Homo sapiens: one gene and its partner. The protein of the gene in region 1 interacts with the protein of each later gene in a pairwise test. Each region holds a gene or a part of one and is shown in the gene's direction. Other genes may lie near its edges.

Region 1 (3,821 bases):
TGTCTGGCTTACTTCACTTAACATAATGATCTCCAGTTCCATCCATGTTGGTGCACTATTCATATTTTTAATTACTAGTGAACTTGAACATGTTTTTTATGTTTGTTAGTCATTAATATCTTTTCTACTCTAAGGTACCTTTTCATTTATTTTGCCTAGTGTTGAATTAGGGTTTTAGCATGGTTGAGATCAATTTGTAAGCTTTTTATTTATTAAGGATATCATTCTGCAGCTGTCATATTCATTGCAAATATTTCCCCTAATTTTTCCTTTTAATTTTTGGCAAATGATGTATTTGGAAGGACAAAATCATCTTTACATAATACTAATAACTATCATGTACTGAATACTTACCATTTGCTGGGCATTGAACAAAACTTTGTACATGGATTACCTCATCATTTAATCTTTGCCATATTCTTAGTGGAATGCAGCATTTCCTCATATTATAAGATTATATAGTTAGTGTCTTATTCCATTTTGTGTTGCTACAGCAGAATGCCACAGACTAGATAATTTATAAAGAAAAGAAATTTGTTTGGCTTATTGTTCTGGAGGTTGGGAAGCCCAAGAGAATGGCACCAATATCTGGCAAGGGCCTTCCTGCTGTGTCATCCCGTGGTGGAAGGTAGAAGGACAAGAGACTATAAGAGTGAGCCAGAAGCAAGAGGGGACCAGACTCACTTTTATCAGGAATCTACTCCCTCAATAATAGCATTAATCTATTTATGAAGGCAAAACTGTCAGGGCCTAATTACCTCTTAACAGTCCCACTTCACAATGGCAATTAAATTTCAACATGAGTTTTGGAGGGGACATTCAAAGTCAGTAAGTGAATGAGCTGGGATGTGAATGGATGAACAAAGTCGTGTTATGATTTAGAATTTTGAAATACGCTTGCCTTGCTGTAAGAAGAGCTTTTAAGCTAGCCAATGCTATTATGTTCTTTACGTTTTGAGTAGGCAATGCAGTCATTAAAAAAGTTTCAAAAGAAACCAACCAGGTGCGGTTTAACCAGCTGGACGTCTGTAACCCAAGCACTTTGGGAGGCCAACGTGGATGGATCACTTGAGGCCAGGAGTTTGAGACTGGCCTGGCCAACATGGCGAAACCCTGTCTCTACTAAAAATACAAAAATTAGGCAGGCATGGTGGTGTGCACCTGTAACCCTAGATACAGGCTGAGGCACAAGAATTGCTTGAACCCGGGAGGTGGAGGTTGCAGTGAGCGGAAATTGCCCCAGCGTGGGTGACAGAGCGAGACTGTATCTAAAAAAAAAAAAAACCTGACCAAACAAACAACAAAAAAAAAAACCTTATGTATGCTCTCACATTTTTTGTATGCGGATAAAAGTAAATGAATATATATCTTCTCTCCCTCTCTGCTTATTTTACACAAAGAGTTAAGACCAGTCAGTTTAGGTTATTTGCTTTTGCAAGACTTGGCTACTTCTTTAGTGTGAAGTATCTTACAAAGTGCACCTCTGATTGAATTAATTATCTCTCATCTTGGAGGGATTCACCATGCAGAGAGTTCAATTTGTTTAGATGGTAATTTCATATTGAAATTGATTTTGGGCCAAAGTCCAGCACTGCCAAGTCTTATGTAACCAGCAGAAGCTGAGCTTTCAACCAGCTGCCATATGTTATGAGGAACAAAGCCAGAGGACCAGTGCAGATGGTTCTCAAGAAATAAGTTATCACTCTCAAAGTCTCTAGAAAGACATATTATCAAAAGGTTATCATGTGTGGCATACTTCTTAAGAAAACACCGCATTTCCCTTCCTAGAGTGATTAGTAAAATATATACCAAAATAGTTCATTTAAGGTGTTCTCTGGAATGGTTTGGCTTTGTGTTCCTTGAGGGTAAAGCTCAGGAGGACTCTAGAGACTGATGGAGGACAAGGGCTGGAGAAGTGTTTGTGTTATCACTAAGGAAGACTTATAGAGAGGACCTGTGCCCATCTTGAAGCCACTCATCTAGAGCTTACTGATTTCGTTTTGTCTTTATTTCTCACCCCTTCCAGGTACTGGCGGAGGACATTGGGCATGCAAGTCCGCTATGTTCACCATGAAGACTATCAGTTCTGTTATTCCTTCCGGGGCAGGCCTGGGCACAAACCCTCCATCCTCATGCTCCACGGATTCTCTGCCCACAAGGATATGTGGCTCAGTGTGGTCAAGGTGCAATTCTCGATTCTTCTCTCTTATAAGAAAAGGGAGTTGGGTGCTGTGGCTCATGCCTATAATCCCAGCACTTTGGGAGCCTGAGGCAGGAGGATTGCTTGAGTCCAGGAGTTCAAAACCAGCCTGGACAACATAAAGAAACCCTGTCTCTACAAAAAATTAAAAAATTAGCCAGGTGTGGTGGTGCATGCCTGTAGTCCTGGCTACTCAGGAGACTGAGGTGGGAAGATTGCTTGAGCCTGGGGGGTCAAGTCTTCAGTGAGCAATGATCATGCCACTGCACTTAGCCTGGGCAACAGAATAAGACTCTGTCTCAAAAAAAATAAAAATAAAAAAAGGAAGAAGAAGAAAAGGGTTTCCACTAGGACATGATGTCATCAACAATGGTAGAAAGCAAAGGGAACTCAGAACTGTGGTGGTTCAAGTCATATTAGAACTAATGCAGTGTGGCCTGGCACAGTGGCTCATACCTGTAATCCCAGCACTTTGGGGAGGCCAAGGCAGGCAGATCACTTGAGCCCAGGAGTTTGAGACCAGCCTGGGCAACATAGGGAGACTCCGTCTCTACAAAAAAATTAGCCAGGCATGGTGGCATGCACCTGTAGTCCCAGCTACTTTGGAGGCTGAGATGGGAGAATCACCTGAGCCTGGGAAGTCAAGGCTGCAGTGAACCAAGATCGTGCTATACCACACTCCAGCCTGAGCAACAGGAGTGAGACCCTGTCTCAAAACAAACAAACAAACTAATGCAATATGTTACTCATTCTTTTGTCAGAAAAAAATTATTGAGTTGAATATTATATATAAAACGTATGGCTTAGAAATCTTTTTACCTCATGGATATTTCTTTGGGGAGGCTTCTGACACAGCTGCATCTCAGAACTGCTGTGAGATCAGAGTTGGGCTTTGAAAAGTCATTTTTTTTGTACTCCCAAGTTTCTTCTCTTCCTTCCCCTCCATATTCTTCCTTCATTCCTTCTTTTCCTTTCCTTCCCACTCCCTCTTCTACGTCTGCTTTTTTCTTTTCCTTTGCCATTTAGAGAAACAGTCTTGATCTAGCAGCTTTCTGGAAGAGTTTTCCAAGTCACTTTTTGTCTTGGTTTACTTGGGTGTGGCAACTTGCTGCTCTTGGTAAGAGTGATCAGGTGTGAAGGTTGGGGCTGGCAGAAGTCTTGGGCAGGAAGCATCCCTGGCTCCCACATCAGGCAACACCATACCTGAGGGATCCCAAGTATCATCTACACCAGTAGGTGAAGACTCACACACCCTCTAGTTAGTTGTATTCTTATTTCCAAATTCCACTATGAGGACAGTCATTTTCATGCCTTGATGAACTTCCTGTCCCCTCCTCAGATAAATATCTTTCTTATAACTGGATGTTTGTTTGTTGGTAACTTATGTTTCTCAGTTTCCTGGTTAAAAGTGGTACATATCTAAATGGAAGAAGGTGTTTTAGGATAATAATAATTTGGAAAAGTAGACCTTAATGTAAAAAGAAACCAAACAAACCAGAATCGGGGTGATCAGATGTGGTTCTTGGGGAAAACATTGCTCCTGTTGGCTCTGGAGCTGGCTAGGATATGAGAGAACAGAACCATCCCTTCCAGATCCAAGTCAGCAGCTGCATGGCTGGAG
Region 2 (3,821 bases), on another chromosome or scaffold:
GTCCCAGGGCAGGTGGAGGCATGCAATACAGTACTTTGGTATGCTTAAGACCTGACAAGGCTCCTCAAACAACATCGTTGAATGGTCTGTCCCATAGCCAACCATGCCCTCCCAGGACCCCCCAACAGGCTCTGGCTCCCCAAGTAGAGCACAAATCACACACAATTTCTAGTTGCCCAGCAGAGGGCCGTGGTTAAGAGTGTGGACTATGACTGCTGGCCAGAATCCCAGCGCTGCCACTCACAAACCATGTGGTCCTGGGTGAGTTATTTTGCCTTTCTCTCCCTGCATCTGCTCACTTGTAAAATGGGAATAACACGAGCACACAGCGTTTTTTTCCTCAGACTAAGGACTCTGGAAAAGCTGCCACATAGTAGGTAAATAGTCATCAGATGAATAAGTAGACAAATACATATCTCTACCCCCTCCTCACCCCCTCTTTCCCCTCCCTCCAATGCTGCCCACCATGGCTTCTCCCTACCTGAAACATATCAGTGTCATTCACCCACTTGCCCTTGACTCACATGACCCGCTGACCGCCTGGAAGCCTGTAGTGAGTGGTGTTCCTGCGAAGGAAGGCCCCAAGAGCCATCCCCTGGTTCTGCTTCCCCTCAGTGCTGCCTGGAGTGACACCTGTGTGCTGTGGGCATTTTGGCCCCATACTTAGCCTCCCCTCGGCATCAGCCTATGGAAACCCTGCTTAAGGGAAAACACTCAGCATACCTGAGAGACCAGGGAGGATCTGAGGCAGCTGGAACTCTCTGGCAGCTCCATTCCTTGGGAGACAAAGGGTTAATGACAATGGCCCAGAGGAATGGGGGCACACGGCATCCACAGTCCTCCATTGATGCACATGGGTGTGCAGGGGTCTATTCATCGTTTCCACTCAAATCCTTTGCAGTGTGTGACCTGGTCCTAGTCCCAGGGCAGATGGAGGCATGCAATACAGTACTTTGGTATGGTTAAGACCCCATCTAGACATGCTGTAATATTTGTATGGTAAACTATTGTGAGTGAAAGGATCTTTATTTAAATGAGTGCCTGGTGCAGAACAGACACTCGATACATATGATTTCCCTTTAGCTGTGTGACCTTGGGCTGTTAGTTAATGTCTCTGTTTTTGAGTTCCCTCCTCTGTGACATGGGATACCTACTTCTTGGGATTGTTTTGAAAAAAGTACCCTGCCCTTGAAAGCACTCGAATTTTGTTTTCTCTCCTTATTCAGATATTAAAAATGTTATAATAATTACAGTTATCCAACAGTAAAATGGGTTGCTGTGGCAAGTGGTGGGATCCCCAGGACTGCTGGTATTTAAGGAGGGCTGAGGGAAAGGGATGCCTGAATTTCAGCTGAGGTAAATGACCTCTAAAGCCTCTCAGGTTCCTGACATTCATTCACTTACTCATCAGACATTTAATGATAACCTATCATGTGTGGGCCAGCGTGCTTAAGAACCAAGACAAACTGTGGCCCAGTTCTACATTCATTGGGTCTTGTCCCTCTGAAGTAAAGGATGGACCCAGTGATTGTCCCTTGTCCCTTTGATGCGTGGAATTCCCAGTGATTGTCCACCCGACTGGAGCCTTGCCAAGCTTCTTACACTGTGCCTTCCAGCACGTGGAGGGAGGAAACCAATTCCTGCTCCTCGTGAATTCCAGAATGTAAGTTACCCCACAAGCCCATGCAAAAAGGGGAAGAGCTTCCTCCTTTTTCTTAGAGCATTTCCTTTAGAAAACTTATATTTTGCTGCCCCTTTGAAATGTATATAAATCTTTTTAAAAGCTAAGTAAGGCTCCAGTCGATTTTACAACCTAGGACTCTTTTCCTGCAAGGGCCTGGAAACCATCTCTTTGAAAATACAGACATCAAGGAAGATAGCTCCCTACCTCCCACTGTCAGTGGGAGGGCAGTGGGTAGTAGTTTCATTTAAGCACCTGGCTCCAAGTTGTAAAACTACCTGCTGTCCTAGAAACTTGAGTTTTATTTTTCCTTTTGATAAAGGCAATTAGCGAACACAAATGGTCACCAGGTGAATTTAGGATGAATTATGCTTGACAAATGGTGCTGTCAAGTCCTCTTACTTTAGTTCGAGAACATGTATGTAATGAATGGGTCCTATTTGCTTGCCCACATAAAAGGGTGGGATGTCTGTCTTTGCAATCTCCTTAGCAGAATGCTAAAGATGTGCATCACTAGTTTAATGTTTATTCAATAATAAAATATTTTCTTTTTCCTATATTTTATGGAGAGGAATTTCTGGGGTGGGAGGAAATTTAAATTGTTTCCCCAACACCTAGCACTTGCTCCTCATCTGATTCTTCCTTTCCAATCTGCCTGCTCAGTCAGAACCCCTAAAAAAAAAAAAAAGGAAACAGAAGGACATGCACATTTAGGCCTTGTACTCTGCTGGCTTTCGTCTGTTATCTGTGGGGTAGTCTCTGCTGTGTCACATACGGACATCTCTGACGATGGGCACGATGAGCTCCCAGGGTTCAGACAGCCTGTCATGGTCAAACGGTCAGGAGCCTGCACTGGGCCACCCTAATTTGCAGATACCAGGAAACGGAGCAGGTACATGCTCAAAACCAGAACTGAGTGTCTCACTTGGTGGCTTTTATTGATAGGATTTCAAAATCCATGTCTGAAAGAAATGTGTGTCACATCATATAAGTAGATTTCATTCAAAAGTTTGTGGGCTTTTTTTTTGTGAGACAAAGGTTTGTTCATTTCTTGCATTTGAAGTACTCTTTGATGACATCCTTGGGCTGAGACTCCTTGCCATAGTCCTTAACTACTACACAACTGCAACCAACCACTTTACAGGGTTTCCCCTCTCTGTCAATTTTACAGAGGTCGCCTACTCATTCCCCTAGTTTCTTGTCATCAACCTTAATTAGGTTGATTTGGTGTTCAGCACAAAGGGCCTTGACCAACCTGACATACATAGGCTCATCAGAATTGGATGCAGGCACACAAAGATGGGGTTGGTTCTGGTTGCCCAGCATGCCAAAAAAGCCAAACATTGACGCTGAGATTTGTAGTGAGAAAAAGGCGTTTATTGCTGGGTGCCAAGCAAGAAGAATGGGTACCTAGCACTTAACACCTGAGCTCCCTGCTGGCTTATAAGCAAGGGTTTTTAAAGCAGGAGTGAGGGGGTATCCAAAATGAGTTAAGAGCTAGGGAATTTCTGGAACTTCCATATCTATTTTTTGGTTTCAGTCTGTCTGAGTTCTATGACAGTGGTCAGCATTTTCCATCTGGTGTGGGAATTGTTTTCTGAAAAGCAATGCAAGGGAATAGGTCAAGATGCTATCTTTAGTTTCTACAGGGAATCAAACATTTTGTGACTCTGACTTACTTGAGTGGCTTTTAAATTATTATCTTCTTGTTTAGCAGGTTATTCGTTAACTTCCCTAATTGCTGGCTGTAGGACTAGCTAGGTACCTGGAACTTCCCTTAAAGGGACTGAGAATGTTGCCTTGATTTCTATGCTTGGCACATGTGGGTAAGGGGAGGAGCCCAGCAGGGCCATAAGAGAGGTCCCTTGGGAAGACAATACAAACATTAGGAGTGAACAGAATAGAGATATGTGGCACTGAGTTTACCCGCAGATGCCAAAAAGGCACAGAGCACAAGGGCAGATGAATGAGCAGCCCATGAGTACACTGCGAACTGAGAGAGAATGCAGTCATCTTGAGCTAGAAGGGAACAGATTTTGTGGGGATTGAGGCACCAGGCTGTGGTCCAATTAGGCAGAGAAAGATGGACAACAGAGTCCAAACGGTAGGGGGTGATAAGAAGCAAGAAACAGTAATAACT

What was found.
Region 2: the proteins of ABHD6 (region 1) and CKMT2 interact in a two-hybrid assay, tested with the Homo sapiens proteins (one large-scale study listed by BioGRID and IntAct).

Annotation. Positions count from the first base shown.
Region 1 is NC_000003.12:58,265,163-58,268,983, forward strand, and holds part of ABHD6 (monoacylglycerol lipase ABHD6), read left to right. Parts: intron 1-2,026; coding exon 2,027-2,183; intron 2,184-3,821. UniProt on the Homo sapiens protein: Lipase that preferentially hydrolysis medium-chain saturated monoacylglycerols including 2-arachidonoylglycerol. Through 2-arachidonoylglycerol degradation may regulate endocannabinoid signaling pathways.
Region 2 is NC_000005.10:81,239,605-81,243,425, forward strand, and holds part of CKMT2 (creatine kinase S-type, mitochondrial precursor), read left to right. Parts: intron 1-3,821. UniProt on the Homo sapiens protein: Reversibly catalyzes the transfer of phosphate between ATP and various phosphogens (e.g. creatine phosphate).